Linked DNA regions of Homo sapiens. The protein of the gene in region 4 purifies or fractionates together with the protein of the main gene of each other region. This does not show direct contact. Each region holds a gene or a part of one and is shown on either strand. Other genes may lie near its edges.

Region 1 (7,547 bases), on a different chromosome or scaffold from region 4:
ACCTAGAAAACTAGGGAACTAAAAGTGCAATATGGTTTGGGTAATGCAGTTGGTTAGCTGTCTCCCCATCCTCCCAACTCACTATTCCAGGGAGGGGCTGAAAACAGAAGTGGCTCCCCTGAAGTCTAGTTAGCATGTCATGACAGAGTCCACATGAAGGGCTGTGGGCTGCAACTTTCTAGTGCACAGTCCTCTCTTTTTGGCGATGATAATCTGAAGGAAAGAAGAAGAAAAGGAGGAACAGAGCAGGTTATCTTCACGCTTGAGCTCCTGATTCCCTATCCCCAACTTGTAGGGCCTCTAGTCATCAGTATTTAAAGAGTTCTTACTTAGGGCCCTGTCAGGAAAGTGAAAAAAGAAAGTGGCACTTACTGTAGGGAAAGAAGCGCACACGCATGCTGATTTCACGAGCTGTCTTCAGGATCTCAACAGCCTGGAAGGAACACAGCAGCTTGTACAAATGAAGAGATATGACCCAAGACAGAATCATAATAGGGGGAAAGGGATTTGCCACTCCAACCTGTGTGTCACTAATAGCTGCTTCCCTCCTGTACTTTCCCAGGAGAGGTGCTTACTTTCTCTCTCTCTTTTTGTTTGTTTGTTTGTTTGTTTTGAGACAGGGTCTTGCTGCGTTGCCTGGGCTGGTCTTAAATTCCTGGGCTCAAGTGATCCTCCCGCCTCAGCCTCCTAAGTAGCTGGGATTACAGGCGTGTACCACAGTGCCCAGCAAAATGCTTTCTTATTAAGTTACAGATTAGGCTACTCCTGTCCAATCTGTCCTATTTGAGATGGCTTCTTGCAGCACCACAGCCCAAGTACTGTGCTCACCTTGCTGTGCTCAATATCTTGGAAATCCACATCATTCACAGCTAGAACTTGGTCCCCTTCCTGCAGTCCTGCTCTATGTGCATCAGAGTCAGGAATCACCTGTTGGTAAAGAGAGAATACATGTGATTGGGATGCGATAATTTCAGAAGACTGTCAGTGAAATTCGGTGCTATTCAAATGTATGGTGCTATTGTTTTTCTGTGACAATGTATGCAGACAGATGGCCTGCCAAATGAAAAGTTTTAAGTGGGAAAGGGGGTGTCTCCATTATACCCCTTCTATGAATCCAGAGTCATCCTCTCAGCCCTTGGGACATTAGGGTTCTGCAATCTGTTAATTTAACAAAGGGAAGTAACGATCCATATTGCCTACTGGGCATAAATACCTTGGAGATGAAGATGCCTAGCTGGGAGGCCTTTCCTCCTCGGATGTTAAATCCCAACTGTAAGACAAGAGCACAGAATGGGGGCTCAATGGAGACCACAAACACAAGAACAACTAGTAGCATCATCGTACAATAGCTCAGCTTGTGTGTCCCTGAGAGGAAAGTCAGAAGTTGCAGAAGTGTTATCTCAGCTTTTCTGTCCACAAGAAGGAAAGTTTCCTCACATCTGCACCTGCTTTCCAATCCATCCCCCCAACACTGCCAATTTGTGGTATGGATGAATCTAGCCTGAAATAAGGTTTCATAAGTTCACCTGAGCTCCAGGAGGCTTCTTCAGTGTGATGGTTCGGGGCAGAAACTGGGTCAACTCATTGTTGTAGTCCGGGTGGTGTACCCTCTGCAAGACACAGCAACCCCAGAAATTTTACCAGTCTTACTTCACACCTACCTTCATCTGAAACACTAATGAATTACCCTGAAGTCAGGAAAAGGAAAGGTCATAGACTTAATTTAAGTAGAACAGATAACACAGACTAAATGAGTAGATGGATAGCACTGGGGCAGCCCAGTAGCTCCCCATTTCTTCACCTTTTTTTTTTTTTTTTGAGATGGAGTTTTGCTCTTGTTGCCCAGGCTGGAGTGCAATGGCTCAATCTCAGCTCACCGCAACCTCTGCCTCCCAGGTTCAAGCAATTCTCCCGCCTCAGCCTCCCTAGTAGCTGGGATTACAGGCATGTGCCACCACGCCCGGCTAATTTTGTATTTTTAGTAGAGACGCGGTTTCTCCATGTTGGTCAGGCTGGTCTCGAACTCCCAACCTCAGGTGATCCGCCTGTTTCGGCCTCCCAAAGTGCTGGGATTACAGGCATGAGCCACCGCGCTGAACCTCTTAACAGTATGGAAATGAAGGCTCCAAATTTCCAGAATTAACCGGTGTGAACAGACCCTAGCAGGAGGCTTCCATAAAGAAGTTCCCAATGGGTCCTGTTGCTCAGAATCCAGCTTCTGGGTCCTCTGGCTACAAGTGCTAAGATTCACTCTCCGTTTCGCCTTCTAACCCTGCTATCCTACCTTTCATGCATCATCTCATGCCCACGGGGAAAAAAATCTCCTACTCAGGAATACAGATGGTTCCCACCTCATGAGGAGGAATCCATGCTGGAGGATTCTCATAGGCAGGCAAGAAAACCACCGGGTAGTCATCATAAGGAATCCGGCTGTCCATCTCGGGCAAGGCCCTGGAAGAGTGAATCAGAACAGACAAAAAGTGGTTCAAAAGGGAGAGCAGCCCAGCAAGTTTCAGACAGCAGCTCCAACCCATTCCAAGGCAGTCAGTCTACAGGCCCAGCCCATATCTAGGTGTTAAGGTTGGAGGAGAGAAGGAAGACAGAAGAAAACTCTTAACTTAGCTAAACATCTTCTGGATGCCAAGCAACCTGTCAGGTACTCTAGAAAGAGGACCTCATTTTTCACAATCCTGCAAAACAGATGTTACCGTCTCAAACCTGGAGAAGAGGAAATCAGGGTCGAGTCTAAAAAGATCTACTTTCGAAGCCCAAGGGAGTGTTAACTATCCGCAGGGACTCGGGGCAAGGCACCGCCCCACATTTCCTAGATGTGATTAGTAATGGTAGGGTCCTTAGATCGACCCTTCCTTCACCTGACCAGCCACCTCCCACGTCCCCGCCCCACATTCTGCCTGAGACCCGCACTCTCAGCCGCATAAACGCCGCACCACCTCACCAGTGGGCAGTCCACAGCGACCTCAGACTCCGCTCACTGACAATTCAGTCTGGGAACCGGAAGCGGATGCTCCGCAGGGTCGAAAAGAGGCCGGGCCAGGGTGCAACGAGCTGACCCTCCCCTTCCCACCGCGCCGGCCTGCGCGCGCCGACGTGCGCGCTCCGCCCTCGGGCAGTCCGCACTGCAATTGGTTGGCGTCTCCGGGACGGATTTGAAACTTGGCGGTTAAAGCTCCGGCTGGGACAGGGCGGCGGGAGGCCCAGGGAGAACGGGGAAGGGACATTTAGTTTGGTGAGTTACGGGGGCACACCTTAGCTCAGAACCTGTTTTTACCCAGTACCCTAGGGCTTTGGTTCTTTGTCGCCGTCCCCGTTGGAGTTTTTTCTTTGCCTTTCAGAAGCCCGTGCACTCTCTTTAGAGTGCAGGGCTGACGGGCGGTCCAGCCCTGGCCAAGTCATGGAGCGTGAATCTCCCAAGTCAGTGTTCCCGCTGAGGAGGGTCGGAACCGGGGAGGACGCCCTCCCACCCCTGCTGACCTACTAACATTCATCAGCGAGCCTTCTTTTTCCCCCTCGCAGAGACGGTGCTGAGATAGGATCATGAAGGAAGAGGTGAAGGGAATTCCCGTAAGAGTGGCGCTGCGTTGTCGCCCTCTGGTCCCCAAAGAGATTAGCGAGGGCTGCCAGATGTGCCTTTCCTTCGTGCCCGGAGAGCCTCAGGTGCGTAGCAGAGTCCAGAGCCTGTGTCTGAACAGCTGGGGCCAAATGGTAACGAGGGGTGTGGTCTTGCCTTTCATTTTTAACCTTACGCCTTGTCCCGTGCCTTCTCTAGGTGGTGGTTGGTACAGATAAATCCTTCACCTACGATTTTGTATTTGATCCCTCTACTGAACAGGAAGAAGTCTTCAATACAGCAGTAGCGCCACTCATAAAAGGTGTATTTAAAGGTAAGGCGATTTGATTCCTCGAACGTAACATATATATTCCTTGAGCATATACTATGTGCCAAGCACTGTGCTTGGGCACTGCAAATACAGGAATCGATGAATCATGATTCCTGCCTTCAAGAAGCCCTTAGCCTAATAACATTTGTCAACGTCTCTGTACCCTTGAAGCTAGTTTTATTCTGTATTTGCTTTATGTGGTTCTGTTCATCTTTGACTTGTATATGTTTGTTTATCCTGGAACTTCATTAGATTATAAACTCTGTGGTGGTTGCTGATGGTGATAAGTGTGCCAACCTACTTGAGGCCCAGGCACTGCAAAGCTTGTTGAGGGATTCAGGTGATAAATAATATAGCTTCGAGGCCCTGAAGGAGTTCAAAGTCCAGGGGATAGGAATGGAGATAGATGACTACATAAATAATTTTGAATATATAAAAATTTTTAAATTTTTTGTACCTATCTTTTAGAAGAAAAATTTTTCAAGTTAAAAATATACAACAGAGTCAGTCCTATGGAAGTAGTAGCTCTGCTCTCATACAAAGTGGTATGAAAAACAAAAGGATGGCTCTAACTCTGCTTGGGGAATTTGGGGTGAATTTCACAGAGTGGGAAAACTTTGAGATGGGTCTTGAATAATGAGTATACTTCTTTTAGGTGGAGAAGGGGAGTGCCTAAAGCCTCTGAATACTATCACCAGTTAATAATCTTTACTGGGGAAGCTAAGTCTTTAATGCTGTTGAGGACCATAGCAGGGTTCTAAAGAAGGGAGCAGTGCCTGAGAGATGTCTAATTATTATTCTAATACAGTGGTTATTCAAGATTCAAAACAGAGGTTCGTTTAAAAGAAGTAGAATCATGGCATGCTAGTGCCTTAAAGTTGAAAGAGACATTTGTATATCATCTAGTTTGTTTTTCATCCAAAGAAAAATGCGTTCTAACAATATCTGTTAGGTGAACTGCCAGTGTCTAAAATTTTTTTGACAGGGAACTCACTGACTCACAGGTAGTCCAGTTGAGATTTGGGTTTTGGACAAGTCTAATTATGTTATAAAGATCTTTATAATGAGATGAAATTTGCTTCCTGGTAATTTCTACCCAGTGATGTTAGTTCATTCCTTTAGAAGCCTTCTTCTAGGCAACAGCTATTCACATATTTTTTCACGTTTTTTTGTTTAATGATATGGCTCAAGGAACACTGAAATTTTTGTTTCAAAATTTTAAGATATTAATGCAATAATTTCAAACGTATAGAATGTTGCAAGAACAGCATAAAAAACATTTTTTCCCTGAACCATTTGAGATGAATCATTGGCCTGATAACCCCCCATACTTTAGTGTATATTTCCTACAAAAAAGGACTTTCTTCTAAGTTACCACAATACAACCATCAAAACAATAAAATTTGCACTGCTACATTACTACCATCTATTCCTGAAACCCCATTCAAGTTTCACCAATTGTCCCAGTAAATATTTTATGGCAAAAAGATCTAGTTCAAAATCACGTTTTATTTAGTTTTGCTGTCTCTTTAGTCTCCATTCTAAAACAGTTCTTTAGTCTTTTTTTGACTTTTATGAGTTTGACACTTTGAAGATTACAGGCCAGTTATTTTGTAAACCTTTTCTCAATATTGTTTTGTCTGGCATTTACTTATGATTAGATTCAGGTTGTGTATCTTTTAGCAGGAATATCACAGAAGTGGTGCTGTTTTCTTCTCACTGAAGCCTATTGGGCAGCACATGATTTTGATTTATTCTATTACTACTGATGTTCATTTTGATCATTTGATTAAGGTGTTAATCTGCTGGGCTTCTCCACTATAATCTTTTTCCTTTTTACATACAGTATTTGGAAAACCGTTAAGTGTTTCTACCTAATTCTCTTCAATTATCCCCGCCTTTCCTTTAGCCATTCCTGAAACAATATGCTTTTCAGACCCTGCACTATCTGGTCAGATTCCTCAGGCTATACCTCCACAGCTTAGTAAGAGCACCACAGTTCTACTTTTACATTCTTAACTTGGGAAACTGATAGAATTAAATTATGTTCTTTAAAGGCAACATAAAGTAGAAAGTGATTCCAATATACATGTGTTTGCTTAACATTACCCTTGGTTGCAAAAACAAAGTCAATATTTTTTATAGTCAGCTCAACAGCACCCTCTTGTACTCTGAACTCCTGGTACCACAGAGCCCTAAGTATTTTGTAAAAACTACTAAAACCTCATTTCCCAAGTTATTGCTATCTGCACATATCTGTGGTATTGCAGAAAATTATGGAATGTTATTCTCTTGCCCCATAGTCATGCCAGCTGATACCAGCGGTCTATTACAGTGAAAATCTCAATTTAGCATCTTCTTATGATCCTTCATTTAGACCAACAAGTTTTTTCAAAACTTCAAAGTTTTCATTTAGATTAAAACGTTGTTTCAAAGTTTAAAGGGTTTTTTCCTTCAGACTGCAAAATTATCTTGGTAAATAGCAGATAACAGCTTTGACATAAATATGATGATCATTTAACAGAGAAAGCTTGCTTTGTGTTCCTTGACAACATGTCTGCCACACTAATAAGGAACAGACTTCCCTAAGGTCATTATTTTTTTCACCTTGAAGTAAATTTGCATTTGTAGTTCCTTTTAGGTGCCATGCTTATAGTTTTAGAAGCTACTACTGTACAATTAAGTAGCAAGTTATAATTATGCATCAGTTAACGACAGGGATACCTTCTGAGAAGTGCATTATTAGGCGGTTTTGTCATTGTATGAACATGGTGGAGTGCATGTATACAAACCTAGATAGTATAGCCTCCTATACACCTGAGCCTACTGCTCCTAGGCTACAAACCTGCAAAGCATGTTACTGTACTGAATACTGTAGGCGGTTGTAACATCATGGAAAATATTTGTGATCTAAGTATAGAAAAGGTGAGGTAAAAATACAGTATGAAAGGTAAAAACTGATACACCCGTATAGGGCAATTACCGTGAATGGAGCTTGCAGGACTGGAAGTTGCTCTGAGTGAGTCAGTGATGAGTGGTGAGTGAATGTAAGGGCCTAAAACATTATTGTATACTACTGTAGACTTTATAAACACTGGATACTTAGCTTACACTAAATTTATTAAACTTTGTGTCTTTCTTCAATCATAAATTAACCTTCGCTTATTATACGTTTTTTACTTTATAAACTTTAATTTTTTAAATCTTTTTGACTTTTTTGTAATAATACTTAGCTTAAAACACAAATACATTGCACAGCGGAATAAACATTTTCACTCTGCATCTTTATTCTGTAAGCTTTTTTCTTTTTAAAAAAATATATTTTTTTACTTTTTAAACTTTTTGTTAAAAACTAAGACACAAACATACACATTAGCCTAGGCCCACCCAGGGCCAGGATCTTCAATATCACTGTCTTCCACCTCCACGTCTTGTCCTACTGGAAAGTCTTCAGGGACAATAACATCCATAGAGCTGTCATCTCCTATGACAACAATACTTTCTTCTGGAATACCTCCTGAAGGACCTGCCTGAGGCTGTTTTACAGTTAACTTTATTTATCATAAGTAGAAGGAGTATACTCTTAAAAATGATAAAAAGTATGGTATAGTATACTAAACACATAAACTAGTAACAATCATTTATTAT
Region 2 (7,434 bases), on a different chromosome or scaffold from region 4:
CTAATTAAAAAATTGTTATTTTATTAAATTTTGACCCTTGAGTACACATGTTTAATATTCTTTGTGACAAAATCAAAGTATTCATAAGGCACTTTTGCTGCATCTTGAAATGCAATGGCTGCCTTAAGGAAAAGCATTTGTGTGACTGAGTTGCAAGCTGAACTAGACGTTGTTTTTAAGAAGCATCACCATTTTACTTGAAAGAATGACTAACAAACCGATTATTCAGACATGGCTATCTGACAAACATTTTCTCAAAACATGAGCCCGGTTGTGCCTATCAATAAAATGAGAGATTTCAAGTGAAAATTGAGATTTTGGAAAACTTATATTCTCTACTGTGAACCTAACAGCTTTCCAGTACTTACAGACTGATTAATCAGTGGTAATACTATGATTTTTTTGGTATTGTACAATAAAATGCTCCAACATTTGCAAGATCTGCAAACTCAGCTAATGAATACCTTCCAAATAATGCAAGATGTTACCAATCGTTCATGAGTAAAAGATCCAAAGTACAAAACAGAACAGAGTTTTAAGGTAAGAGCACCCCAAATTTAATCATATGGTTTAAGAATCCATTTGGCAACTTTTTTTTTTTTTTTTTTTTTTTTTTTTGAGATAAAGTCTCACTCTGTCACCCAGGCTAGAGTGTAGTGGCACAATCTCAGCTCACTGCAACCTCTGCCTCCCGGGTTCAAGTGATTCTCTGCCTCAGCCTCCTGAGTAGCTGGGATTACAGGCACCCACCACCATGCCTGGCTAATTTTTGTATTTTTAGTAGAGATGGGGTTTCACCATGTTGGCCAGGCTGGGCTCGAACTCCTGATCTCTTGATACACCTGCCTCGGCCTCCTAAAGTGCTGGGATTACAGGTGTGAGCCACTGTGCCCGGCCCGCAACTAACTTTTAAGAAGGGTTAGTTTATTACTTGTTGAGCTGTGTTATATTAAAGCACAACACCCTCAATGATCTAAAAATGCTATTAAGTACTCGTCTTAATCATGTATCTGTCAGAGGCTGTATTTTCTTCAAATACTTCAACCAAAACAAAATAGCACAAGAGATTAAAAGCAGAAACACCTATGACAATTCATCTGTCTTCTATTAATATTTTGCCAGACATTAAAGAGATCTGTAAATTGAAAACAATGCTACTCTTCCTTTTTTGGGGTAATACTTTTCACAAAAATCTTACTTATCCTTACATGTAATAGATTTTTTGTAAGTGAATTAATAAATTTTATTTTTAGTGTGATAAATATTGATAGGTATAACCTACTGAAACAAAAGCTCTTTGGAATCCTTAATCATTTCTAAGAGTCTAAAAGAGGTCCAATTCCCAAAGAGTTTGAGAACCACTATTCTAGAAGGCAAGAGAAAAGGAACTCCTGACTTCAACTTTCATCTACAAAGTTTAACCAGAAAACAAATATAAAAGGTCATGAAAACTTTAGACAAATAGAAGGTCACAAGAAAGACCAAGAAATCACGAAGATCATAAACCTGGAGGACATTATGTTACATGAAATAAGACAGGCACAGAGAGACAAACACCACATGATCTCACATATGTAATCTAAAAAAGTGGAAATCAGAAATCACAGAAGCAGAGAGTCGAGTAGTGGTTAGAAGGGACTGAGTGAGGTTGAGGGTAGTTGGGAAGATACTGGTCAAAGGGCACACATTTTAATTAGACAAGAGGAATTCTATTCTACAACACGGTGACTAAAATTAATAACAATGCATTGCATACTTGAAAATTAGTAAGAGTAGATAGTAAGTGTTCTCACCACAAAAAAAAGTAAGTACCTAAGGTAAAGCAAATGTTAATTAGCTCCATTTAGTCACTGTAGACACATTTCAAACATCATGTTGTACACTATAAGTATATACATTTTTTACTTCTCAATAAATTAATAAAAATCACTTTAATGACAATAAAAAATAATAGGAAGATTTTAGCTCTCAAGACTAACCAAAAACCGTATTCCTCATTAAGCTACAATTCCAACTCAGAGCAGCACATTTTATTTAAACAACTTTATGCTGCCTTACACCTGTATTTAAGAACTCAAAGGTACTTCAAAATGACGACACTATATCTAACACCATTACTGGTACCATCTACAGTGTCATGAATCTCTATCATGCTTCTTTGTGTTGTATATATTACTATTAGTTTTTGCAAATAACTGGTGAAAAAAGAAAATAAACAAAGGGGAATGTCCCAAAACCTAGATTCCTGTACTACTCTGGCTAAATGTTTTCAAGAAAGATAAGTTGGTCAAGTGTCTAAAAGGTACATATAACTTCTGCCCACTTAATAGTATTATAAATTATTGAACTTTGTTGTGACAGTTTAGGTTCTTCATAAACTTTGATAACTGTGTTAGTTATAACTGATGGAGTCAACTGATGGTGAAAACGAAGAGCCTCCCAACTGTACACGATTGTTTTATTTCCCCCAAGGAGTCCAAAAGGCAGATGCAGATAGCGGGCAAGTGCTCGAGCTATTTTCTCGCTCACTACCTTCTGGATAAGTCTTTCTGGATAAGACTCAGCATGGCTTGTGGTCGGCAGCAAGTTATAGAACCCCCAGAGAAGGATCCAGAGACCCCGCGGCCCCTTCCCGCCCTGTGCCGTCACCTCCCCGCTTCCCCGCGTCTCCCTGGACACCTGAGCCTTCGTCCGCGCGGGGAGCCGCTTTGGTGGCACGCCGGGAGCTCGCCCAGACCCGGCCCCGGCCACGAGGGCCCCGAACCCGGTGGGGCAGTCCCGCCACCTGCGCGCGGCCTCCTCCAGAGGGCGGCTCTTCCTCCGCAGAACCCGGGACCGGAAGTTCCCTCGGCGCCCCAGGCTCAGCAGGCGACTCCTCGGCGCCATCGCTGTCGCTGGAATCAGCCGCGCGCTGCCGAAAAGTCCTTTTCGGCCTGTGAGCCATGGCCGAGGCCCGAGCGCCCGGCGCCCTAGAACCCGCTGAACCGCAAGCCGCAGCTTCAGTGCCCGCCCCCTAGGGCGCGCTCCCGCCGCGCCTGGCCGCCGAGTGCGCGCGCCCGTCCCGCCTGCCTTCTGCTCACCGCTACTCTGTCTGCGCCTGCGTGCTTTGGCTCCCTGGATCTGGTAGGCCGAGTTCTGTTCTGGGGCCTGAGTTTGCAAAGCATTCCCTTTGCCAGGTTAGGTTGCGTGGACTGACACCTTAGAGATTTTCACGGCCTATCCGGTCTGAGTCCCACGGAGAGCAGAACTCACGTGCTGTCCTTGTGCAAACCCCATCCAGAAATCAAGCGTTATGCTTTCCGTCCTGGACTGGAGCCAGATCCGTTGTCTTTTACTTTCTGGAGAGAGTGCCCCCTCCAACCAAGATTTAAAACAAACGAAACCCCAGCAGTGTGAGGCTCGGGGTAGGAGGAGATGCCTTTGAGAACAAAACCATAAAGTCTGTACATAAACAATGCATACAGACTAGCAAAAATCAAATGACTTCCCCCAGGCAGCAGGGCTTCAAGAGAGCCTGGTTAAATGTTTTCACCCTTAAAGAAACTATCTAAAAACAAAAAGCTATTGTCTGACGCAAATTTGTTCTATATTCATCAAGCTCTGTCTACTACTGTATCTGTATGGTAGAAATACTATATAATGTTGAGCTACTGCACACCTGTTATCAACTCCATGTTTAGTGGCGTCATATTGAGAGGTGACAGCGGGCCAGCTGGAGTTCCGGGTGGGCATGGGCTTGGCGGGCCTGCACTCGGAGCAGCCGGCCGGCCCTGCCAGCCCCGGGCAGTGAGGGACTTGGCACCCGGGCCAGCGGCTACAGAGGGTGTACTGGGTCCCCTAGCAGTGCCGGCCCACCGGCGCTGTGCTCGATTTCTCGCCGGGCCTTAGCTGCCTTCCCGCGGTGCAGGGCTCGGGACCTGCAGCCCGCCATGCCTGAGCCTCCCATCCACTCCATGGGCTCCTGTGCTGCCCGAGCATCCCCGACGAGCACCACCCCCTGCTCCACGGCGCCCAGTCCCATCGACCACCCAAGGGCTGAGGAGTACGAGCGCACGGCGCCGGACTGGCAGGCAGCTCCACCTGCAGCCCCGGTGCGGGATCCACTAGGTGAAGCCAGTTGGGCTCCTGAGTCTGGTGGGGACATAGAGAGTCTTTATGTCTAGCTCAGGGATTGTAAATACACCAATCAGCACTCTGTATCTGGCTCAAGGTTTGTAAACACACCAATCAGCACCCTGTGTTTAGCTCAAGGTTTATGAGTGCACCAATCGACACTCTGTATCTAGCTGCTCTGGTGGGGCCTTGGAGAACCTTTATGTCTAGCTCAGGGATTGTAAAAACACCAATCGGCACTCTGTATCTAGCTCAAGGTTTGTAAACCCACCAATCAGCACCCTGTGTTTAGCTCAAGGTTTGTGAGTGCACCAATAGACATTCTATCTAGCTGCTCTGGTGAGGCCTTGGAGAACCTGTGTGTGGAAACTCTGTATCTAACTAATCTGATGGGGATGTGGAGAACTTTTGTATCTAGCTCAGGGATTGTAAACGCACCAATCACGGCCCTGTCAAAACAGGCCGCTGGGCTCTACCAATCAGCAGGATGTGGGTGGGGCCAGATAAGAGAATAAAAGCAGGCTGCCCCAGCCAGCAGTGGCAACCCGCTCCGGTCCCCTTCCACAGTGTGGAAGCTTTGTTCTTTCGCTCTTTGCAATAAATCTTGCTACTGCTGACTCTTTGGGTCCACGTGGCTTTTATGAGCTGTAACACTCACCGTGAAGATCTGCAGCTTCATTCCTGAGCCCAGCGAGACCACAAACCCACCAGAAGGAAGAAACTCCAAACACATCTGAACATCAGAAGGGGCAGACCCCAGACGCGCCACCTTAAGAGCTGTAACGCTCACCGCGAGGGTCCGCAGCTTCATTCTTGAAATCAGTGAGACCAAGAACCCACCAATTCCGGACACAATATTGGCACCTTGAAATCAGCCATAAAGGGACTACTTATACCATATAAATTGGAAGACCTTAGAAGTCCAGGTGTTTCTCCCAGATATCCAGTCATTAAACATTTACCATTGTATCACTGACTATATGTCACCAAAGGAATCGAGAAGAGGCAAAGTTTCTCTGATTGACCTAGCCCCGGAATTTTTTTTTCTTGGCTTTGTCTTTTTTTCTTGGCTTTTCTCAATAAACTGAAACTCCTTGATGTAAATTTGGGAAATTATATGATACAGTATTATCAGTTATTCACAAGTTATTAATGTCTTATTATAAAGAGAGGCTTCTCTTTTTAAATCCAGGTAAAATTAGAGAACTACTTGTTTTTTTGTGTGTTTCTTTTGGAAAATTGGCAAATGGTGTGAAAAAGATATTTCTGGAGAATAGAGATACTTGTGGCATCTGAAAGAACAGCTTCCTATCATGGACCAAGTGCTCCTTGTAGTTAGAATAAACTTTAAAGATTGGAGATGGAGAAGTGGGTTCCGTTCGGTCCAGTGCTTTTCAGATGCCATCTTTCCATGCAGAATTCCCAAGTTCTGCCATGGATACTGCTCTGTACTCCCTTAGCAGAGGAGGACATCTTTCCAAATTACACTATAAAGTAGTTAATGCTAAACCAAACAGGAGACTATAATTTTTAGTTTAGTTAATTTTATGGACAGAGTCTCGCTCTGCCACCCAGTGCGATGGTGCAAATACAGCTCACTTCAGCCTTGACCTACTGGGCTTAGTGATCCTCCCACCTTAGCCTCCTGAGGATCTGGGACTACACGCGCATACCCCAATGCCCAGCTAAGACTAGCATTTTGAAACAGTGAGGAGAATGAGGAAGATGATCGTGATTGTAATTGGAGAGAAATTCAGTGTTCTGTTATGCACTCTTAAGGAAACATATTAATATATCGTACAATTCAATCAGTGTTTATTATACACCTACTAGCACAGGCACCATGCTAAGCCCTAGACTAATGCTTATCAAATCTAATGTTCTTCAAAGCACATGGAAATAGTGTGGACATATAGATACTGATTGAGCTGCTATGTGTAGGAACCAAGAGTCTTCATTTCTAGCAAGCTCCCAGGTGAAGGCGAGGATACTTGTCTGAGGATCACTCTAAATAGCAAGGTCCTAGAGCAGATACTAAGTATTAATCACCCTTAAGAAGGCTGGGCGCAGTGGCTCACGCCAGTAATCCCAGCACTTTGGGAGGCCGAGGTGGGCAGATCACGAGGTCAGGAGTTCAAGACCAGCATGACCAACATGGTGAAACCCCATCTCTACTAAAAATACAAAAATTAGCCGGGCGTGGTGGTGCATGCCTGTAATCCCAGCTACTTGGGAGGCTGAAGCAGAAGAATCACTTGAACCCAGGAGGCGGAGGTTGCAGTGAGCCGAGACCGCACCACTGTACTCCAGCCTGGTGACAGAGTGAGACTCCATCTCCAAAAAAAAAAAAGAAGTCTTAAAAAATAGTCTAAATAACTTAATCATTGATGAACTTCATATCAGATTGTAACAGCATGTAAATGTTAGGTACCTCAAAATTTAGAAACCTAAATAGCCCCCCAAAAGGAAAACTAATAAGAATCTATTCAAAGTGAGTAAGGTTATTTAAGTGTAGAAGTTGTTCACCATAAGGGGATATCTGTCTGCACCTCCTCAAAAAGGGTTCTCTGCCAGCTTCCAAAGTCATTTTAGGTGTTTGTTGCAATTGGAAAGGGGGTCAGCAGGACAGAATTCACTCCCAGTGTTGCTTAAAAGGCAGCAGTTTATTTAAGGACAATCTAAGTGTGATGTTGGTGTTCTAGAAGGCTGTTCTTTCCCTTCAAAAGTCACTAACTCACAAACGATGTTAAACCAAAATGTGAAAACGCTAGGCAGAGTTTACTGTTCTCGGCTGAGTTCAGAGCCATCTGCTAATGTGGACTCATTGTTTACTTTCCCATTTTAAAAGACACTGCCTCCCCAGACAGAGCCCTTCTTTTACTCATTTTGATATCCTATACCTAGTTTAGTGTTTAGTGCACAACTGACATGAACACAATGAACTAAATGGTTGGATGAGGCAATTCTGAAACATCTGTGTTCACTCACGAAAATAAAACTGGAAAACAAGTCACTCTAACTTGTTAAATGCAAACATGTTAAGAGATAGGTGATATATGATGGAGATAGAAAAAACTCTGCTATTTAAAACAGAAATCAAACATTTGTTCTAAGGGAAAGAAGTGAGAAAAATTATTTTCTCTGGGTGTTGCCTTGGTGGGAGAGGATGAAATAAAGATAACTTATTTAATAAAGGGGGAGGAATCCTGAGTTTTCTCCTCTGTCCCCAGGGAAAGCAGAGCGATGACTCTGAGGGATAGTTGCCAGATTTAGAAAAAATATAGAATACCTGGTAAAACTTGAAATTCAGATAAAACAGGA
Region 3 (7,024 bases), on a different chromosome or scaffold from region 4:
GGAGGTAACTTTGGGCTTCTGGACATGACTGGAGGATGGGGAGGAAAGGCAACTTTATCTGACCATGAACAGGGTAAAGCACCCCCCACCTGTTAGCAATAGTTTTTAAAGTTGTGGTTTAGGACCTCTTTACACACTCAAAAATTACTGAGGACTCCAAAGAGTTCTTGTTTAAGGGGGATTATAATTATCAGCATTTGCCATATTAGAAATTAAAACTTTAAAAATACATAATTAATTTAAAAATAAAAACAATAAACCCATTACATATAAACCAGAAATGTCTTTATTTAAAATAACTACATTTCTGTGAGGTCAGTTTTATAGATCTCTTCCTATTGAGAATATATAATAATTCTCAATAGGAAGGAGGGGTTTAAGTAGAGATATTTCATAGTGACTTCATAGGAAAGCCACTGCCTGGTCATGTGTTTCACTATTAAAAGACATATGTAGCTCATTTCAGAGTGTTAATCATTGAGAAATAATTCTAGTACCTAATTTCTTAGAGATTGAAAAATAAAGCCATACACTAAAAGGACAAAAACTTACAATTGATACGATGATGATGATAATAGTGAGCTTGAGGTTCTTCATACACATGGCTCGAGCAAGATTTCTGCTGGTAGTTTTGAAGGTGACAGACTAGAAAAGAGGCGAGAATTGTTTAACCCCTGGCACTGACTACATGAATGATTTGCAGTAACAACCTGAGAACATTTTACTTCCATTAATTCCATTTAAGTCCAATGACCTCTCTTTACAAGTAGAGACTGGCCATTCATACTCAATAGTTGCCAAAAGCAAGACTCTGCCAGGCCTATCATAAGCAGTATGAGCCCAATGAAAACGCTTCCCTCTTTTTTCTTCTCCACTGCAGCAATGCACATGATGTTGAGCACCAGAAGTGGTTCTTCCCGCTAGTGGAAAAGAATTTTCCTCTCTATACTTCCAATAAGAAAGGCTCTTTTAAAGCCAGCTGACTGCAAGCACATTCGCCTATTCTGCCCCGTATAATTCCGGGGCTTTGAGCCATAAAAACCTGTTTGATTTCTGTAGGAAGATATGTATTTACTTTTGTGAGGGCCAAAACCCATAGAACTTCATTCCTTCTGCTATCCATTTTCTTTTGCATCATCAATTTCTCAGTATCTACTGAACAATTCCCACCAGGACACAAGGAGTTTAAAACAAAATGGCAAACAACCAACCAACAAAACTCCCTAATAATCCAGCAATCCACTCTGGTATGGTCCCACAGATGTATGCAAATTCACCAAAAGACATATAAAAAAATGTTTTGGACAGCACTACTTTTCATACCTTAAACTGGAAACCACCCAAATGCCCATCAACTGTGCAATGCATAAATTACAGGAGAGTCATAACATGGAATACAATACAGTAATGACAATTCACAATCTACTACTACATTTATACAATTTACCACAGATGAATCTCACAAACATCATTTTGAGCAATAGAAACTTGACATAAACAGAATACCTGCTATATTTTATTATTTATCTTGAGACAGGGTCTTGCTCTGTCGCCCAAGCTGGAGTGCAGTGGCACAATTACGACTCACTGCAGCTTTGACCTCCTGGGCTCAAACGATCCTCCCACCTCAGCCTCCTGAGTAGCTGGGACTATAGGTGTGTGCCACCACTCTCGGCCCCTGCTATGTTTTATTAATCTATGTGGAGAAATCAGGACAGTGGCCACCTTTGGAGAAGAGTAGTGACTAAAAGAAGGGAGAAGGGAGCTTCTGGGGTACTGTTCGTGCTCTAGTTCTTAATCTGGGTGTTGGTTCTACATGGTATGTTTACTTTGTGAAAACACAACAAGTTGTATGCTTACAGTTGATGCACTTTATGTATATTATACTTCACATATTGGTTTTAAAAAATCCACTCCCTTAACCATAGATTCATCTCCAACCACATACTCCACAAAGTCTCTGCAGTAGAACAACTGACAGGGGCACCAGTCTTTGGGTTTCACTTCATGAAGACTGCACAGGATGCCACCTGGAGGCACATACCAAAACTGATTACATCTAGAGCTAAATATATATGTTGAATAGAATATATGCATTGACTAGAACTTTTGAGAAGAAACAGCAGTTAAAGTGAGGAGACAAAAAAAGCAATGGGGACAAACAGTCCTTAATGGAACAAAGTTAATATGGGAAACAAGATAGAATAACAGTAATAAAAAAATTTCTAATAAGTATCCTCAGATACAAGACATAATTGAACTAATTTTAAACAAAGTCATCAGAGGACATAAAAAATTAGATAACATGACAACATTCCAAAAACTATATTTTAATAAAATGGCATAATTTTTTAAAAGCAGAACATAAATGAGCAAAAGCAGCTTCTGCAGTAACAATTCAAAAAATTTGTTCTGAAAACAGCAAAATGTCTAGGTTGTAAATCATGAAAGAAGATGTAAGATACACGGAAAACTGATCAAGCAAATCCAGGATCAATTTATACGATCAACAGATATTTAACATGTGCTTATTATGTGCCTGGTACTGATTTACACACCTATTAGCAGTCACAGGAGAGAATACAGCCAAAAGAGAAGGATCAATAATCAAGGGACTAATTGAAGAAAATATCCCCCAAATAAGACAGACTTGAATCTTCAGACTAAAAGGACCTACCCACCATGTGGCAAGAATATTGAAAAAAGGAAAATGTTACACTTTTAGTAACATTTCAGACCTCCAAGCTTTTGTTTCTACTCTAATTTTATTTTTTTCTGCCTTGAAGTATAATTGGCAAATAAAAATGGTATATATTCAAGGTATACAATGTGATATTCTGATAAATGTACACATTGTGAAATTATTACCACAATCAAGCTAAGTAAAATATCCATCACCTCACATAGTTACTTTTTTGGGTATGTGGTGAGAATGCTTAAGATCTATTCTTATAGCATATTTCAAATATTCAATACATTATTATTAACTATAGTTGCCATGCTGTATGTCCGGTATCCAGAACTTATTCATCTTACAACTGTAAGTTCATACACTTTGACCAACATCTCTCCAGGTCTCCCACCCACTGTCAACCACTGTTTTACTCTCTGCTTTTATGAACTGAACATTTTTTTTAGATTCCATATATAAGTGAAATCATACAGTATTTATCTATCTGTGTCTAGTATATTTCACTTAATATAATGTCTTCTAGTTTCATCCACATTTTAGAATTTTTTTTTCTATTCTGTGAAAAATGCCATTGGAATTTCAATAGGGATTGTGTTGAATCTGTGTATTGCTTCAGGCAGTATGAACATTTTAATAATATTGATTCTTCCAATCCATAAACATAAGGTATCTTTCCATTGATTTGTGTCTTCTTGAATTTCTTTCATCAATGTTTTATAATTTTCAGTGTGCACATTATTACATCCTTGGTTAAATTTATTCCTAACTATTGTACTCTTTTTGATGCTATCATAAATGGGATTTTTAAAAAATTTCCTTTGATTCCTGTTCCAAGATGGCCAAATAGGAACAGCTCCAGTCTACAGCCCCCAGCGTGAGCAACGCACAAGACGGATGATTTCTGCATTTCCAACTGAGATACCGGCTTCATCTCACTGGGGCTTGTTGGACAGTGGGTGCAGCCCACCGAGCGTGAGCCGAAGCAGGGCGAGACATCGCCTCACCCGGGAAGCACAAGGGGTCAGGGAATTCCCTTTCCTAGCCAAGGGAAGCTGTGACAGATGGCACCTGGAAAATCGGATCACTCCCACCCTAATACTGCGCTTTTCCAACGGTCTTAGCAAACAGCACACCAGGAGATTATATCCCGCGCCTGGCTCAGAGGGTCCCACACCCACGGAGCCTCACTCATTGCTAGCACAGCAGTCTGAGATTGAACTGCAAGGTGGCAGCGAGGCTGGAGGAGAGGCGCCCGCCATTGCTGAGGCTTGAGTAGGTAAACAAAGCTGCCGGGAAGCTCGAACTGGGTGGAGCCCACCACAGCTCAAGGAGGCCTGCCTGCCTCTGTAGACTCCACCTCTGGGGGCAGGGCATAGCTGAACAAAAGGCAGCAGAAACCTCTGCAAACTTAAATGTCCCTGTCTGACAGCTTTGAAGAGAGTAGTGGTTCTCCCAGGACAGAGTTTGAGATCTGAGAACAGACAGACTGCCTCCTCAAGTGGGTCCCTGACCCCCAAGCAGCCTAACTGGGAGGTACCCCCCAGTAGAGGCAGACTGACACCTCACACGGCGGGTACCCCTCTGAGACAAAACCTCCAGAGGAACGATCAGAGAGCAACATTTGGTGTTCAGCAATATTCACTGTTCTGCAGCCTCCGCTGCTGATACCCAGGCAAACAGGGTCTGGAGTGGCCCTCCGACAAACTCCAACAGACCTGCAGCTGAGGGTCCTGACTGTTAGAAGGAAAACTAACAAACAGAAAGGACATCCACACAAAAACCCCATCTGTATGTCACCATCATCAAAGACCAAAGGTAGATAAAACCACAAAGATAGGGAAAAAAACAGCAGAAAAACTGAAAATTCTAAAAATCAGAGCGCCTCTCCTCCTCCAAAGGAACGCAGCTCCTCACCAGCAACAGAACAAAGGTAGACAGAGAATGACTTTGACGAGTTGAGAAAAGAAGGCTTCAGATGATCAAACTTCTCTGAGCTAAAGGAGGAAGTTTGAACCCAGCACAAAGAAGCTAAAAACCTTGAAAAAAAGATTAGATGAATGGCTAACTAGAATAACCAATGTAGACAAGTCCTTAAATGACCTGATGGAGCTGAAAACCATGGCACGAGAACTAAGTGACGAATGCACAAACTTCAGTAGCCGATTCGAACAACTGGAAGAAAGGGTATCCGTGATTGAAGACCAAATGAATGAAATGAAGCGAGAAGAGAAGTTTAGAGAAAAAAGAATAAAAAGAAACGAAAAAAGCCTCCAAGAAATATGGGACTATGTGAAAAGACCAAATCTACGTCTGATTGGTGTACCTGAAAGTGATGGGGAGAATGGAACCAAGTTGGAAAACACTCTGCAGGATATTAGCCAGGAGAACTTCCCCAACCTAGCAAGGCAGGCCAACATTCAAATTCAGGAAATACAGAGAACGCCACAAAGATACTCCTCGAGAAGAGCAACTCCGAGACACATAATTGTCAGATCACCAAAGTTGAAATGAAGGAAAAAATGTTAAGGGCAGCCAGAGAGAAAGGTCGGGTTACCCACAAAGGGAAGCCCATCAGACTAACAGCTGATCTCTCGGCAGAAACTCTACAAGCCAGAAGAGAGTGGGGGCCAATATCCAAAATTCTTAAAGAAAAGAATTTTCAACCCAGAATTTCATATCCAGCCAAACTAAGCTTCATAGGTGAAGGAAAAATAAAATCCTTTACAGACAAGCAAATGCTGAGAGATTTTGTCACCACCAGGCCTGCCTTACAAGAGCTCCTGAAGGAAGCACTAAACATGGAAAGGAACAACACATACCAGCCACTGGAAAAACATGCCAAATTGTAAAGACCATCAAGGCTAGGAAGAAACTGCATCAACTAACGAGCAAAATAACCAGCTAGCATCATAATGACAGGATCAAATTCACACATAACAGTATCAACCTTAAATGTAAATGGGCTAAATGCTCCAATTAAAAGACACAGACTGGCAAATTAGATAAAGAGTAAAGACCCATCAGTGTGCTGTATTCAGGAAATCCATCTCATGTGCAGAGACACACATAGGCTCAAAATAAAGGGATGCAGGAAGATCTACCAAGCAAATGGAAAACAAAAAAAGGCAGGGGTTGCAATCCTAGTCTCTGATAAAACAGACTTTAAACTAGCAAGGATCAAAAGAGACAAAGAAGGCCATTACATAATGGTAAAGGGATCAATTCAACAAGAAGAGCTAACTATCCTAAATATTTATGCACCCAATACAGGAGGACCCAGATTCATAAAGCAAGTCCTTAGAGACCTACAAAGAGACTTAGACTCCCATACAATAATAAAGGGAGACTTTAACACCCCACTGTCAACATTAGACAGATCAATGAGACAGAAAGTTAACAAGGATATCCAGGAATTGAACTCAGCTCTGCACCAAGCGGACCTAACAGACATCTACAGAACTCTCCACCCCAAATCAACAGAATATACATTCTTCTCAGCACCACATCGCACTTATTCCAAAATTGACCACATAGTTGGAAGTAAAGCACTCCTCAGCAAATGTAAAAGAACAGAAATTATAACAAACTGTCTCTCAGACCACAGTGAAATCAAATTAGAACTCAAGATTAAGAAACTCACTCAAAACTGCTCAGCTACATGGAGACTGAACAACCTGCTCCTGAATGACTACTGGGTACATAACGAAATGAATGCAGAAATAAACATGTTCTTTGAAACCAATGAGAACAAAGACACAACATACCAGAATCTCTGGGACACATTTAAAGCAGTGTGTAGAGGGAAATTTATAGCACTAAATGCCCACAAAAGGAAGCAGGAAAGATATAAAATTGACACCCTAACATCACAATTAAAAGAACTAGAGGAACAAGAGCAAACACATTCAAAAGCTAGCAGAAGGCAAGAAATAACTCAGAGCAGAACTGAACGAGATAGAGACACAAAAAACCCTTCAAGAAATCAATGAATCCAGGAGCTGGTTTTTTGAAAAGATCAACAAAATTGATAGACTGCTAGCAAGACTAATAAAGAAGAAAAGAGAGAAGAATCAAATAGACGCAATAAAAAATGATAAAAGGGGATATCACCACCGATCCCACAGAAATACAAACTACCATCAGAGAATACTACAAACACCTCTACACAAATAAACTAGAAAATCTAGAAGAAATGGATAAATTCCTTGACACATACACCCTCCCAAGACTAAACCAGGAAGAAGTTGAATCTCTGAATAGACCAATAACAGGCTCTGAAATTGAGGCAATAATTAATAGCTTACCAACCAAAAAAAGTCCAGGACCAGATGG
Region 4 (7,024 bases):
ACCTTAGGTCTTTAGATAGTGTTGCTCTTTTTGTTACTTAAAATCCCTGACCAGAGAGTACGTCTTTGGATTGAATCTAGGACCCTGCATTGTAAATTCAGTGTTATTCTAATAAGAACATCAACGGGGGTTAGTTGTTTATAGAACCAAACAGATTCTAAAGTTCACAGGGGAGTAACTGCAAGAACAGCCATAAGATTTTTTTTAAAAGAACAATGGGGAGAAGACAAAGTTGTCTTAAGTAGCTCTCAAAGGTTTTATTAAAACATGATAGTAGGCCAGGTGTAGGGGCTCACACCTATAATCCCAGCACTTTGGGAGGCCAAGGCGGGCAGATCACTTGAGCCCAGGAGTTCAAGATCAGCCTGGGAAACATGGCAAAACCCCATCTCTACTAAAAATAGAAAAAATTAGCTGGGCATGGGACACATGCAGTCCCAGCTAGCTAGCTATTCAGGAGGCTGAGGTGGGAGGATCGCTTGAACCCGGGAAGTGGAGGTTGCAGTGAGCCGAGATCGTGCCACTGCACTGCCGCCTGGGTGACAAAGTTAGCCCCTGTCTCAAAAACAAAAACAAAACATGAGAGTAATTAAAACTGTGCTACTGGCACAGGAATAGACAAATAGATCACTAGGACAGAAAACAGTCCAGAAAAAGACTAACATATATGGAAATTTAGTTTATAATAAGGTAACATTCTAAGTCAATGATAAATTACTAATGGAAAAATGGCCTCTGTCTGGGAAACAAAATGAGAACTCTAGCTTTAAAAGTATACAGAAAAGTAATGCTAAAAAATAAATTTTGGCTGGGTGCAGTGGCTCATGCCTGTAATCCCAGCACTTTGGGAGGCTGAGGTGGGTGGATCACCTGAGGTCAGGAGTTCGAGGCCAGCCTGGCCAACATGGTGAAACCCTGTCTCTACTAAAAATACATAAATTAGCCGGCTGTGGTGGTGCACGCCTGTAATCCCAGCTACTCGGGAGGCTGAGGCAGGAGAATCTCTTGACCCCGGGAAGTTGAGGTTGCAGTGAGCAGAGATTGTGCCACTGCACTCTAGCCTGGGCAACAAAGCGAGACTCTGTCTCAAATATATAAATAAATAAATAAATAAATTTTAAGAAAATATAATGGCTGGGCACAGTGGCTCATGCCCTTAGTAATCCCAGCACCTTTGGAGGCTGAAGCAGGAGGACTGCTTGGGCCCAAGGAGTCCAGCCTGGGCAACATAGTGAGACCCTGTCTCTACACAAAATAAATTTTTTTTAAAAAAATGGCTGGGCACGGTGGCTCACGCCTGCAATCCCAGCACTTTGGGAGGCCGAGACGGGTGGGTCACTTGAGGTCAGGAGTTCGAGACCATCCTGGCCAACATGGTGAAACCCATCTCTACTAAAAATACAAAAATTGGCCAGGCATGGTGGCGGGCGCCTGTAATCTCAAGCTATTCAGGAGGCTGAGGCATGAGAATTGCTTGAAACCAGGAGGTGGAGGTTGCAGCAAGCCAAGATCACACCACTGCACTCCAGCCAGGGCAACAGAGCAAGACTGTGTCTCAACAACAACAACAACAACAACAACAAATTAGCCAGGCAGGGTGGCAAGTGCCTGTAGTCCCAGCTACTTGGGAGGCTGAGGCAGGAGGATCGCTTGAACCCAGGAGGGTCAAGGCTGCAGTGGGCCTTGATAGCACTGCCACTGTACTCCAGCCTGGGCAACAGAACAAAACCCTGTCTTTAAAAAACAAAAAACAAACAAAAAAAGCCCCATAATTTTAAGATAGGAAAGTCTGGCCTACTTAGTAGGCAAAATAAAAACCCTACATGCTGTAAAGGAATAACATGAATTACTTAGGCCTTGAATTTAAAGCTTTTGTATGATGAGATACCATAAATAAGCAAAAGACAAACGATAGGCTGGGATTAGTAAAAAAATCTGCAATGTGCATTACATATGTATAACAGACAAAAGAGCTCTTATATACTAATAGTTACAAAATGCCAACACAATTGAAAAATGGCCAGAGGCTCTACGTAAGCAAGTCATGAGAGAATCATATATAGCCAATTATCACAAAGATGTTGAACCCACCCAGACCTAAACTAGCAAAGATGCTAGTAAGATGAAAATGCAAATTAAGATGAATTATATTTTTAGTAGCAAAACCAAAAAAGATTATCATCAGGTTGTAAGGAGTTAATACAATTACTTGTGACACAGTAATTTTACTTTTAGGAATCTATTCTACATAAATACACATGTGCAAAGAAATATATGTGCAAGGATGTATACTAGAACATTATTGGGATTAACATGAAATTGGAAATTACCTAAATGTTAGAGGAATGGTTATATTAAGGTATATCTATACTGTGGAACACCTGTGATATTATGACTTGTAAGTTCCTCTGGCTTCCTGGAACAGCTCCTAAAATCCTTAAATCTCCAAAGTGGTAAGTATCTTTTGGATGCTAATGATGACTGATGGCTGGGGGATCCTGGATAGCCTCAACAGGGGAGCTGGTTGCCAGGGGTATCAACCATGAGATCAGTCCCATCCCCCAACCTTGGGGAAGGGAACGGGGTACTGAAGGTTGAGTTGATCACCAGTGACCAATGATGTAATCAATCATGCCTGTGTGATGAAACCTGCAAAAGAACCCAAAAGGACTAGCTTTGGAGAGCTTCTGGATAGCTGAACACACAGAGGTATGGGACCTGGATAGAGGTGCACCTAGGGAGGGCAGGGAAGCTCTGAACCCCTCTCCCCCTCCCCATGTCTTGCCCTATGCACTTCTTCCATCTGCCTCTTCATGTTTCCTTTGTAATAAACCAGTAAGTGGAGGTGTTTCCCTGAGATCTGTGAGCCGCCCCAAAGACGTCCCAAGCAAATTAATCAAACCCAAAGAGGAAGTCATGGCAACCTCTTTATACCCAGCTGGTCAGAATCACACATCACAACCTGGGGCTTACAACTGGCATCTGAAGGGGGGCAGTCTTGTGGAACTAAGCCCTTAGCCTGTGGGATCTGACGCTGTGTCCAGGTGGAAAGTGTCAGAACTGAACTGAATTAGAGGACACCCAGCTGGTGTCCACTGGAGAATTAGTTATTGGTGGTGAAAAATCCCCACACACGTATTGGTGCCCAAACGTGAAGTACTCCAGAGTGTCAGAGTAGGAAAAACCAAAGTATTTTTCCTATGCTTTGGTTTTTCCTATCTCCTTTAGAACTATGCAGCCATAAAAAGAATAGGTAAGCTATACATAATTATGACATGTCAGTTAAAAATAATATTAAGGGCTGGGCATGGTGGCTGATGCCTGTAATCCCAGAACTTTGGGAAGCCAAGGTGGAAGGACTGCTTGACCCCAGGAGTTTGAGACCAGCCTGGGCCAACCTGGCCTCTACAAAAAATAAATTAAAAAAATTAGCTGGGCATGGTGACACACACCTTAGTCCTAGCTACTCAGGAGGCTGAGGTGAGAGGATCACTTGAGTCTTGGGAGATTGAGGTGAGAGGATCACTTGAGTCTTGGGAGATTGAGGCTGCAGTGAGCCATGACTGAGCCACTGCATTCCAGCCTGGGTGTCAAGGTGAGACCTTGTCTCAAAAATAAGTAATAAAAAATAAAATAGAATTAAAATAACTAAGGGGACAAAAAAGAATATATGTAGTGATAAGAAAAGATCTTAGGTCTATGGTTCCCAAACTGCACTGAGGTCCCTGGGTTGGTGAGCAAACTCACAGAGGCACCACAGAATAATATAAATTTTCAAGAGACTTCATGTGTAATATTACCTTGAGGTTACTTCATGCTTTTAACATTAGATTGCAAAACATTCAATGAAGTCAATCTTTCCAAAGCTGGGTTTTGGTGGTGCTAGATTTGGAAAGTTTTTCCCCTCCAAACCTCATGTTAAAATTTAATCCCCTATGTTGGAGGTGTGGCCTAATAGGAAGTGTTTGGGCCATGAGGACAGATCCTTCATGAACAGATTAATGCCCTCTCTGGAGGGGAAGGGAATGAGTTCTCATTATTCATTCCCTGGAGACCTGGTTGTTAAAAAGAGCCTGACACCCCCCTGCTGTTCCTCTTGCTTCTTTTCTTGATATGTGATCTCTGCACATGCTTTGCCTTGCGAAGCTGCTGAGTGGAAGCAGCCTGAGGACCTCACCAGAAGCCCAGCTGATGGCAGCACCATGCTTCTTGTACAGCCTACACGGTTCTTGCAGAACCATGAGCTAAATAAATAACCTCTTTTCTTTATAAAGTAACCAGCCCAGGTATTACTTTATAAGCAACACAAAATGGCTTAACACAGGTGGTTACTATGATAAAAAGCAAATACTGTACAAAACTAACACTGAACAAGAAATGAGGATGCCAATTTCCAGTCTGATGCCAAGATATGAGGTATTGTGTAGTGCTCTATAGGCACTCACATCCCATTAGTATTTCTTAAATTAGTAATTTAAGAACAAAATTGCTGGGCGCGGTGGCTCACCCCTGTAATCCCAGCACTTTGGGAGGCCAAGGCAGGGGGCTCACGAGGTCAGGGGATCAAGACCATCCTGGCTAACACAGTGAAACCTCGTCTCTACTAAACATACAAAAAATTAGCTGGGCGTGGTGGTGGGTGCCTGTAGTCCCAGCTACTCGGGAGGCTGAGGCAGGAGAATGGCATGAACCCGGGAGGTGGAGCTTGCAGCGAGCCGAGATTGTGCCACTGCACTTCAGCCTGGGCGACAGAGTGAGACTCTGTCTCAAAATAAATAAATAAATAAAAAATAAAAATAAAAATCTTTATATTTGTCTTTTGGCCTAAGTATAGGGGCATTAAAAAAATTTACTGGCACACTAAGGATACTGTAAACCAAGAAAGTTTGGGAAACCTGTGTCTTAAGTGAAAAATGCAATGTAGAACAATTAACAATCTGAGTTGATAAACAATTATGATTATCTAGTGTACATTTACATTAATACATAGAATTTGGATTAAAAATGTCAACTCAGTTGACAATGACTACCTCTAGGTAGAATAAGAATTGAAGAACAGAGAAGGGATACTTTCAGTTCATTGCTCTCTATAGTTCTGTATTAAATCCTTTTCTACCAGGAAGTATCTGCAGTACAACTGCAAATTTGGTTTTTAATTTTATATTGCATCTGTTCCTGCAGAGAAACCCATAACAAAACAATGGCAAAAGAAAAAGAAAAACATTACAACACCGTTTTCTATGCAGGTATACATAATAAAGTTCAAAAAAGTTTGGAACTTCCTGGCAGCCAAAGGGGAAAGAAATCTGTTAAACTACAGAATTTTTATTACAGGTCAAGCATCCCTAATCCAAAATCCAAAATGCTCCAAAATCCAAAACTTTTTGAGTGCCAACATGATACTTAAAGAAAATGCTTGGCCAGGCACAGTGGTTCACACCTGTAATCCTAGCACTTTGGGAGGCCAAGGCAGGAGGACAACTTGAGGCCAAGAGTTCAAGACCAACCTAGCCAACATAGCAAGATCCCCGTGTCTCTCTCTCTCTCTCTCTATATATATATACATTTATAAATATTTATATAAAATATATACAAGTATTATATATATATTTCCATATATGCAAAGGAAATGCTCCCAAGAGCATTTTGGATTTTGGATTGAGGATGCTCAACCAGTAAGTATAATGCAAATGTTCAAAATTCCAAAAAAATCTGAAATCTGAAACACTTTTGGTTCTAAGCATTTTGGATAAGGATATTTCTATATCAGAAAGGAATGGGAATGCCAATTCAGTGGAAATGTAAACTAAGAGGTGGGAGGGGCAACTAATATTTCTTTACTCTGCAGGTGCTTTGCTTGCTTCATGACTTTGACTTTCAACAATCCTTCAAGGGAGGCATTAGTTCATCATTACACCTGAAGAAGTCGGAGGTTCAAAGACCTCACAACAAGCAAGTGGAAAAGTAAATGTTCAAATTAGGTCTTCTTTTCCAAAAATCCTGTTACATAACAGTATAATGCAATGTAGCTAAGCCAAGAACTGTGGTCATCTGCATTGAGATTTGTTTCTGTTAAGATAATTAAAATGACTAATGGGCCAGGTGCAGTGGCTCACGCCTGTAATCCCAGCATTTTGGGAGGCCGAGACGTGATCCACCTGATCCACCTGAGGTCAGGAGTTCGAGACCAGCTGGGCCAACGTGGAAAAACCCCATCTCTACTAAAAATACAAAAATTAACCAAGCAAGGTGGCGCATGCCTGTAATCCCAGCTACTCGGGAGGCTGAGGCAGGAGAATCGCTTGAACCCAGGAGGCGGAGGTTGCAGTGAGCCAAGATCATGCCACTGCACTCCAGCCTGGGTGATGGAGTGACATTCCATCTCAATAAATAAATAAAATAAAATAAAATAAAACGACTGATTTAACTTGAAAAAATACTAACAATAATTCATTTTAAATTTTATAATTTTTGACTAAAAAATATACAAAAGGAAGTCAAAGTCAGTCTCTCCACCTCTGCTCTCATTCCCACTCATTAGAGATAACTTGTTTTCTCATTCCAGAAATTTTCTATGCATTTATATACACATAATACTTTTGTTTTACCTAAATGTGATCATACTGCTTTGCCATATTTCCCCCCACATAATAGATTTTGGACTTATTCAGCCAGAGAAAATCTCATTAGACCTCACTGATATACAGTTAAGAGGGCTTTTATTTTGCTTTTACTTTTTTTTTTTTTTTTCGAGAGGGAGTTTTGCTCGTTTCCCAGGCTGGAGTGCAATGGCGCGATCTCGGCTCACCACAACCTCCGCCTTCCGGGTTCAAGCGATTCTCCTGCCTCAGCCTCCCAAGAAGCTGGGACTACAGATGGGTGCCACACGCCCAGCTAGTTTTTATTTTTATTTTTTGAGATGAAGTCTCACTCTGTCGCCCAGACTGGAGTGCAGTGGTGCAATCTCGGCTCACTGCAACCTCTGCCTCCCAGGTTCAAGTGATTCTCCTGCCTCAGCCTCCTG

The links.
Region 1: the proteins of GINM1 (region 4) and PDZD11 purify together in Homo sapiens (affinity purification with mass spectrometry; 3 studies listed by BioGRID and IntAct, with this or other methods). This does not show direct contact.
Region 2: the proteins of GINM1 (region 4) and GCFC2 purify together in Homo sapiens (affinity purification with mass spectrometry; 3 studies listed by BioGRID and IntAct, with this or other methods). This does not show direct contact.
Region 3: the proteins of GINM1 (region 4) and VAMP7 purify together in Homo sapiens (affinity purification with mass spectrometry; 3 studies listed by BioGRID and IntAct, with this or other methods). This does not show direct contact.

Annotation. Positions count from the first base shown.
Region 1 is NC_000023.11:70,286,904-70,294,450, forward strand, and holds the start of PDZD11 (PDZ domain-containing protein 11), read right to left. Parts: upstream 3,025-7,547; 5' UTR 2,957-3,024; exon of another isoform or gene 2,926-2,956; intron 2,719-2,925; exon of another isoform or gene 2,535-2,718; coding exon of another isoform or gene 2,439-2,534; coding exon 2,352-2,438; intron 1,611-2,351; coding exon 1,527-1,610; intron 1,271-1,526; coding exon 1,214-1,270; intron 928-1,213; coding exon 829-927; intron 434-828; coding exon 373-433; intron 214-372; coding exon 179-213; 3' UTR 1-178. Other genes in the region: chromosome-associated kinesin KIF4A, read left to right, coding at 3,556-3,675, 3,788-3,902. UniProt on the Homo sapiens protein: Mediates docking of ADAM10 to zonula adherens by interacting with PLEKHA7 which is required for PLEKHA7 to interact with the ADAM10-binding protein TSPAN33.
Region 2 is NC_000002.12:75,707,912-75,715,345, forward strand, and holds the start of GCFC2 (intron Large complex component GCFC2), read right to left. Parts: upstream 3,005-7,434; 5' UTR 2,945-3,004; coding exon 2,680-2,944; exon of another isoform or gene 2,533-2,679; intron 1-2,532.
Region 3 is NC_000023.11:155,933,322-155,940,345, reverse strand, and holds part of VAMP7 (vesicle-associated membrane protein 7), read right to left. Parts: intron 646-7,024; coding exon 553-645; intron 1-552. UniProt on the Homo sapiens protein: Involved in the targeting and/or fusion of transport vesicles to their target membrane during transport of proteins from the early endosome to the lysosome. Required for heterotypic fusion of late endosomes with lysosomes and homotypic lysosomal fusion.
Region 4 is NC_000006.12:149,583,355-149,590,378, reverse strand, and holds part of GINM1 (glycoprotein integral membrane protein 1 precursor), read right to left. Parts: intron 1-7,024.